Homo sapiens: one gene and its partner. The protein of the gene in region 1 purifies or fractionates together with the protein of each later gene. This does not show direct contact. Each region holds a gene or a part of one and is shown on either strand. Other genes may lie near its edges.

The links. Proteins that work in one complex are often made in the same cells at the same time.
Region 2: the proteins of ADIPOR2 (region 1) and TMEM33 purify together in Homo sapiens (affinity purification with mass spectrometry, with the first as the bait; one study listed by BioGRID). This does not show direct contact.

The regions. Positions count from the first base shown.
Region 1 is NC_000012.12:1,785,061-1,789,179, forward strand, and holds the end of ADIPOR2 (adiponectin receptor protein 2), read left to right. Parts: intron 1-883; coding exon 884-1,012; 3' UTR 1,013-3,614; downstream 3,615-4,119. UniProt on the Homo sapiens protein: Receptor for ADIPOQ, an essential hormone secreted by adipocytes that regulates glucose and lipid metabolism. Required for normal body fat and glucose homeostasis.
Region 2 is NC_000004.12:41,948,928-41,952,441, reverse strand, and holds part of TMEM33 (transmembrane protein 33), read right to left. Parts: intron 3,141-3,514; coding exon 3,057-3,140; intron 1-3,056. UniProt on the Homo sapiens protein: Acts as a regulator of the tubular endoplasmic reticulum (ER) network by modulating intracellular calcium homeostasis. Mechanistically, stimulates PKD2 calcium-dependent activity. Suppresses the RTN3/4-induced formation of the ER tubules.

The DNA of each region.
Region 1 (4,119 bases):
TTAATCCCCTTTGGTTTCCTAGGAAACATCTCTTGGGATGTGACTTGATTTCTTCTAGTTTTTGCTTCTAAAATCAGTGTTTTTCTCTTGATAAATACTGCTTTGCCACTGTACTTTTTCATTTTGAGATTATAATGACAGAATAGTGTAATTTTTGAAGTGCAGCGAGCAATTGATTACCCTTCTTGAGATGTGGAATAGCATTCAACAGAACAGGTAAAATCAGAAATAATGTCACTTGCTTGTAGACCAGCTTCTGACTTGAGAAGTAAAAGGGCCTGTTTGCTTAGTTTTTGACACATTATGTAGTTCATGAAATTTGAGAATCGTAGCACTGAAGGAAACTCTGGGGACCATATGTTGTGACATTCCACACACCATCCTGGAAGCCTCTTTAGTTTTTCTAACAGAGAGCAACATTTAAATGACCATAGCTCTAGTCCTCTTGTCCATGACAAAATGTCCATCAGCAGTGAGTAGGAAAAGGACTGTATGTGTAATCATAGCCCATGGCTAGGTGTCAAGGGATCCTTGGGACCTTTGTGGCCTGTTAGCAAGAGAGTCTGTGTGTCATTTGCCACTTTAGCAAGAGAGTCTGTGTGTCATTTGCCACTGGTTTCAGTGTTAAGTTTGTAGATTTTTATGTGTAGAGCTTAGTGGCAGCACCTTGGTTTCTTTGGGAACAGCTGGCTTTCAGCTCAGCAGAATGTGTTACACCTAATGGATGTTCCAGGATCTGTGGACGCCTTGAATTTGAGCTCTGTCACATCCATTCCCTGCCTTCTGCTCAGCATAAACCAGGATTAAACGATCCTAAGAATCTTTAGCAGTCTTAATAATGTATGGGTTTCTCTACCCCCTTCTCTTCTTTTTTCCCCTCCAGTTTCACTCTCATCAGCTGTTTCATATCTTTGTGGTTGCTGGAGCTTTTGTTCACTTCCATGGTGTCTCAAACCTCCAGGAGTTTCGTTTCATGATCGGCGGGGGCTGCAGTGAAGAGGATGCACTGTGATACCTACCAGTCTCCAGGGACTATGACCCTAAACCAGGGCCTGCGGCACTTGCGGGCCTCCCTGCTGGCTACTGATGCCAGTACCAGAGGAGCCCCAAAACTTTGACAGCCTCGTGGGCTTTGTGACGGCCCAGTGGCTCTGCGTGGTACATGACTGAGAAGAGAAAAACAAAAATAAATCATACCTCAAAGGATGGAGTGCATCAATTGGGAGAAAAGGAGACATAGCCCAAACCCTGGCTTATTCTTGGGATCTACTGATTGCGGGCTCTGCAAGACCCTTGGCAAACTGGCTTCTGATCCATATCATATTTATTTGTAGAAGATGGCGAAACAGTTTAGCTGGTGGTTCTTTCTTCTCCCTTTCTCTCTCTCTATGACAATAATACAAACCAATTTAAGTGAACATTTATATCCGATAAGGGGTGGGAGTGTGATTTTAAATGCTCTTTTGGGAGAACAAAGAAATTAATGTAAATAAGATTTCTAACTGTTTAAATAAGACTTTATATAAATGTTTAAAACATAGGGGTAAGGGAGGGAGGGAGAATTTTTGTATAGAATGAAACATGCAAGTACCACACACTGTTTGAATTTTGCACAAAAAGTGACTGTAGGATCAGGTGATAGCCCCGGAATGTACAGTGTCTTGGTGCACCAAGATGCCTTCTAAAGGCTGACATACCTTGGACCCTAATGGGGCAGAGAGTATAGCCCTAGCCCAGTGGTGACATGACCACTCCCTTTGGGAGGCCTGAGGTAGAGGGGAGTGGTATGTGTTTTCTCAGTGGAAGCAGCACATGAGTGGGTGACAGGATGTTAGATAAAGGCTCTAGTTAGGGTGTCATTGTCATTTGAGAGACTGACACACTCCTAGCAGCTGGTAAAGGGGTGCTGGAGGCCATGGAGGAGCTCTAGAAACATTAGCATGGGCTGATCTGATTACTTCCTGGCATCCCGCTCACTTTTATGGGAAGTCTTATTAGAGGGATGGGACAGTTTTCCATATCCTTGCTGTGGAGCTCTGGAACACTCTCTAAATTTCCCTCTATTAAAAATCACTGCCCTAACTACACTTCCTCCTTGAGGGAATAGAAATGGACCTTTCTCTGACATAGTTCTTGGCATGGGAGCCAGCCACAAATGAGATTCTGACGTGTCCAGGTTTCTCCTGAGCTCATCTACATAGATTGGTAGACCCTTCCTTTGGATTAGGAAAGATGAGTTTTACCTCTGGTACACTGTCTTGGTAAGCCTGGATGTGACAGACACCTCGGCTCTCCTTGAATAAGAAAGCCAGCAGAACTCTTAAAGCCAGTTGTAGTACGGAGTTGTCAGCACTCACTGAACCTCACTTTACAGGGATAAGAGTGGTGTGGCATTTTAAATACAATGGTATGTTATTGCCAGGGAGTGAGGTACAAGACGATGGCTCATGTCACAGGCCTACCTGATACGGTGTCAGAGAAAGTGGTGGGGAAAGGATCTGGTTCATGGAATTCTGATCTTGGCCCATAGGTGAACCACCAAAATAGTGCTCGAGTCTTAGGTTACTGTCATCAAAGACTTGGGATGACTCCATTATATCCTGGGGTTGTGGGTATTAGAACTAAATATGGAGGTCCTGAGCATGGGGACTGGCGTCCTCAGTAGGTGTTTGGGAATATGGGAAGGGTCTCCTATTTATTCAATAGAGTTTTCTCAGTTATTTTCCTCCCTTGCCCTTGCAATCTCCAGCAAAAGGTGGGATCTAGGAAGAAAGAATCCAGTGTAGAAGTTGAGAAGAACTTGAACGTTTTGGTTCTGGATAAGGTCACTGTCCTAGGTGCTAGGTGGACCGAGCAAAAGACTCAGTGGATGAACTGGTGCAGTGCCTGACAGAATAAAGAACAGTATTAATCCCTTTGAGAAAGCATAGTCCAGCAGGACAGTGGCCATTTGGACAGAAGCCCACTTAGTTTCTTGGGAGCAACAGCACGTATCAGAAGCCAGACTTGCTCTTCGGTCATGCACTTTGGGATACAGCGTATAGGTGCAGCCCTGTCACAACACCAACAGAAGTAGCAGCCTCTGGGTGCAGTCACCCACACCCCAAAGCTGGAAGGATCTGGTTCAACATAGCACAAACCCTTAGGAAAAATGAAATTAACATCACTGATGTGTAATCCAGTAAAATCTCCCTTTTTCGGGTGTGTATGTGGGCATGTGCCCATTTCTATGTGTGTGTCTACGTGCAGCTCACTACCAACAGCCTCATGTGCACTTGACCTGACAGTGCTCGCTGAGAACTCTCACCAGGTTGGCGCCTGAATGCCTTACTCTCAGCAGTCAGAGGCTTGCTTGCTCTGTGCAGATTTTTAATTTTCTTTTTTGGCCCTAGGCTGGTTGGGACCTCTACAGCTTCATTCTTTCACCATTAAATAGTGGCCTTTTTCAGTATTTTCCCTCTTCCCCTTTATAAATTATGCTAAAGCCACAAAGCACATTTTTGGGGATCATAGAAGGTTGGGGTTCCAGAAAGGCATCTGTGTGATGGTTCCATTGATGTGGGATTTCCCTACTTGCTGTATTCTCAGTTTCTAATAAAAAGAACCAAATGAAATATGACCTGTCGTGTGTTTTTTTATTGCCGTTCAGCTTACCTCCCCTTGGCTTTTGGCACTTCTCTGAAGCTCTAATTTAGACACTGTGATTTAAGAAATTTTTGGAAACTTCCCCTTCGGGATGCAGAAATCAAAGTGCTTATGCCCAACTCCTGTTTCCTAACTCAAGCTTTCCTCGTAAGTTGCACCAGGTTTAGAATGGAGGGGAGAGCAGCTCTAAGGGGCAGTTCTTATTTATTATTGAAGTTTATAAAAATAGTCTCTAATGCCAAGGGCAATAGGCTCTACCATAAAGCCTGGGTGTGTAGTAGGCTGTACCATCTAGGTTTGTGTAAGTGCATTCTATGATGTTTGCGTGACAACGAAATCAACTAATTATGAAATCACTTAATGATACATTTCTCAGAATGTATCTCTTTTGTTAAGTGAAACATTACAAAATTTATTTTTTTGGGCACGGTGGCTCACTCCTGTAATCCCAGCACTTTGGGAGGCCAAGGCGGG
Region 2 (3,514 bases), on another chromosome or scaffold:
ATTTTAACCATTCACAATTTTCACCTTATGTGCTGACTCATCCTGTATAAAGATGCAACTACTATTCTACCTTTTTGTGTCCTGTTTTACTTCTATGGTTAGAAAAAAAGCAACAAATCTACTTTTCTAAACAAGTATTTAATATGCTTGCACAGAAAGACAGGAATAATAATATTTGGAGTAATGCATAATTTTCCAAAACCTGCCCTTCCTGTATCTCCTGTCTTCGTGAGAGCACCATTACAACTCTTAGGCTTCCAAGCCAGAAACCTGTGGGTCTTTAATTTACTCTTTTCTCTCAAGCCCTAATATCCTATCTCCTAATACCTTTCATATTTGTCCCCTTTTCCTTTTACCACTGGATTAATTCAGGCTCTAGACTACTCTAATAGTCTCCAAATTGATATTTTTCTTCTCTTGCTGAGCTTGCAATCCATTTTCTGGAATATTTCTAAATCAGATTTCATCATGGGGGTTCCCAGCCTCTCTATGTTACAATCTTCAAAGGCTCTCCTTACCTCAAAATAAAATCCAAACCCTTTCATGATCTAGTCCTTTCTACCATCTACCTTTGTGGACACAGATATTTATCAATTCTCTATATACTTCCTGAGCTCAAGTATGCTAAGCACTTTTCAGGCACCCATGTGTCAGAACTCAGGCTCATTCTTTAAAAGACTTGGCTTATGTTCCCACCTCCTCAGTGAATTCTTATTTGTCTCTGTCTGTTCTCTATGCTTTCAGAGCACCTTCATCATCACACTGACTTACATAGCTGTCTAATTTATTCAGCAGTGAGTACCTCTGAAAGAAGATATTTTAATTCCACATAAGTTCATCAACATACAATCACTGTTTTAACCAATCAGTCAAATGAATAAAGCTAGAAGACATGAGGACTAATGAAGTCAATCGCTTTCACTAAAGTCACATAGTTCTTTTATTACTGGCTGCATCGCTGGCACAGACCAAGTCAGAGTTCCTTAACAGCACGGACAACAGAACTTTGAACAATGATAAAATTTTTGCATATCTGTGCTGAAGGACCAGTCAGAGAGTTCCTTAATAGCACTGACAACAGAACTTTGAGTAATGACAAAATTTTTGCATATGTGTGCTGACCCACAGTTGCCATCAGCAACACATGGCTTTTGAGTACCCACCTGAACTGTGCTCAAAAGGAACCAAGTTCTAAGTTTTATGAATTTTATTTAAAGGTCAAATGTGGTTGCTGTGCTGTACTGGACAGCACAGCTATAGACAATCTGCACTAGAGATCCAAAAACAACTGAAACCACCAACTTGAGAATAAATATCGTAGGTGAAAATGGTACAAATTGTGAATAGAGATGGTCTCAAAACCTTTAATTAAAAAAAGTGTAGTACTGAAAATGTAGTTTTATAGCCTGTTTATCAATATTTACAAGCTGAAATATTTTCCATTACCTTTCCACTGGTTTGGTTAAAATGGGTGCTTATAAGACAGCTTTGAAGATGTTTACCAGCACATATTTGTGTTATCTTGATTCACTGCTATCCTTTCCTTTTCAGTCCACTGAAAACTGAATTCTAGATGTACTAATATGATTTAAGGGTATGTGAAGAAAATGGGAATGGAGAAGGAGGCACAAAGAAGCACAGAAAAACAAATATGCTGATTAAAATAACAGATGTCAGGGCAAGAGAATATAAGATAATGTCTGAAATGAATATAGGGACCAGAAAGAAAAAAGGCTAAAACTCAAGAAATCAAGTAAAAATGAATGTTAATTTGCTACTAGAGACTCACTAAGAACGAATGTCTAAAATAAGTTCTATTTTAGAAAGTATTATAAAAAAGACATTGTCTAATAGAGCATAAAAACGCTCTGAACAGAAAATCAGATCATAGAATAATGAAAATGAACTAGTAAGAACATAACAGTCTAAGTACTTTTAAAATATTACTTCGCTTCACCCCCAGAAGGAGTTATTTCCTCTACCAATGAAGAAATCCAAATAAATAACCTGCCTAGTCACACAACTAGTTAATGATGGGCCAGCATTCAAATTCAAGTTCTTTTTACTGTACTTATGAAAATATACAGATTGCTGTAATGCACTCATTGGATTTCTAGCTGAATTCTACATTATTTTAAACTTAAAAATAGATTATCTTAATATTAGTATTTGAGTATCATTTTAGTTTTACTCCAATGCTTGAGATCAGAATGCATAATTTAGTGTATATTAATTTAAGCCTCCATTCCTGAAAACTACAGTAATTCCCTAAAATTTCTCTGCTTCCCCATTTTTCTGCTTCAAACTCTTCTGGCACAAGGGTATCAGAAGAATATTCTGACGATGTCAAAACCATCATTCCCATTCACCTAAAAGATAAATTCCAAACTTCTTACCCTAAAACTCAAGAAGTTTTATAATATAGCTCCAATATACCTTTCTAATCTTAGCTCCAGCAATTAGCCATTCAGAATCTCCATTAGAGTCAAAACAGCTCTACATAAAGTTCCTCAAATATGGCTTGTGCTTCTCGTCTCTCTTGCCCCACCTAAAATGCTTTTCCCTATTCAAAAGCTTTACTCCTCCCACAATCTCAATTTTGTGAAACCTTCCTGGGCTCATCTATCTTCTGGCCCAATGATCTCTCCCTTCTGTGGACTGCAGTACTGATATAATAAAGCAAACATATGGCATTCATTATCTATTGGCTTGTGAATTCTGTATCCTAACCATTGTTTATCTAATTGACACGTGTTTTGTTTCTTCAACTAGGAAAGTTGAGAGTGGAATCTATGTCTTATACATTTTAAAATTTGCTAAGTTTTAGCAGTGCTTTAGAGGTGGCGTAGATAACTGCAGTCTCAGTTTCTAAGAACAAATACAACCACTTCCTCACCAACCCCAGTACATTCTAAGGCCTAGAACTTAAATTTACAAAAACACTGCTTGCTTCTAAAGTCTAACACATTAGCTAAGTAACTCTTAAGAATTGCGAATACTATATATTCACAATACTCTCAACAAATAAAACATGCCTAAAATAATCATCAGCTTACCGACAATATGGGTTTCTTCGAGACGAATATCGAAGGGTAAGAAATCTATAGTATATAAAAGGTTGGAGCAAACTTCCTTGACCACTGAAATAAACAAATACAAGCGTGATAAATATACATTTCAATTCATGTGTATACTCTCAAAACTTAAAAGCAATTCAACTGGAGAATATGTGTATCTTCATTCATCAAATGGTCATAGTGAAATCTATCATGTCTAAATCCAAGTTATCCTTAAAAAAGGATATAAAAGAATGTACATGATTGGTAAAGAGTAAAATGTTGTTTAATTTTTTTATAAATGTATTCTTATCTGTATTACTTTTGAAATTTTTTAAAATACTAAATAAATCAGAAAATGTTAAATAATTCCGTAATTACTAATTGATGAAATCAAGTTGTAAAGCTTCATAAAATATGCAAATGAAAAGTGACTTATTTTATATATATAAAAAGAA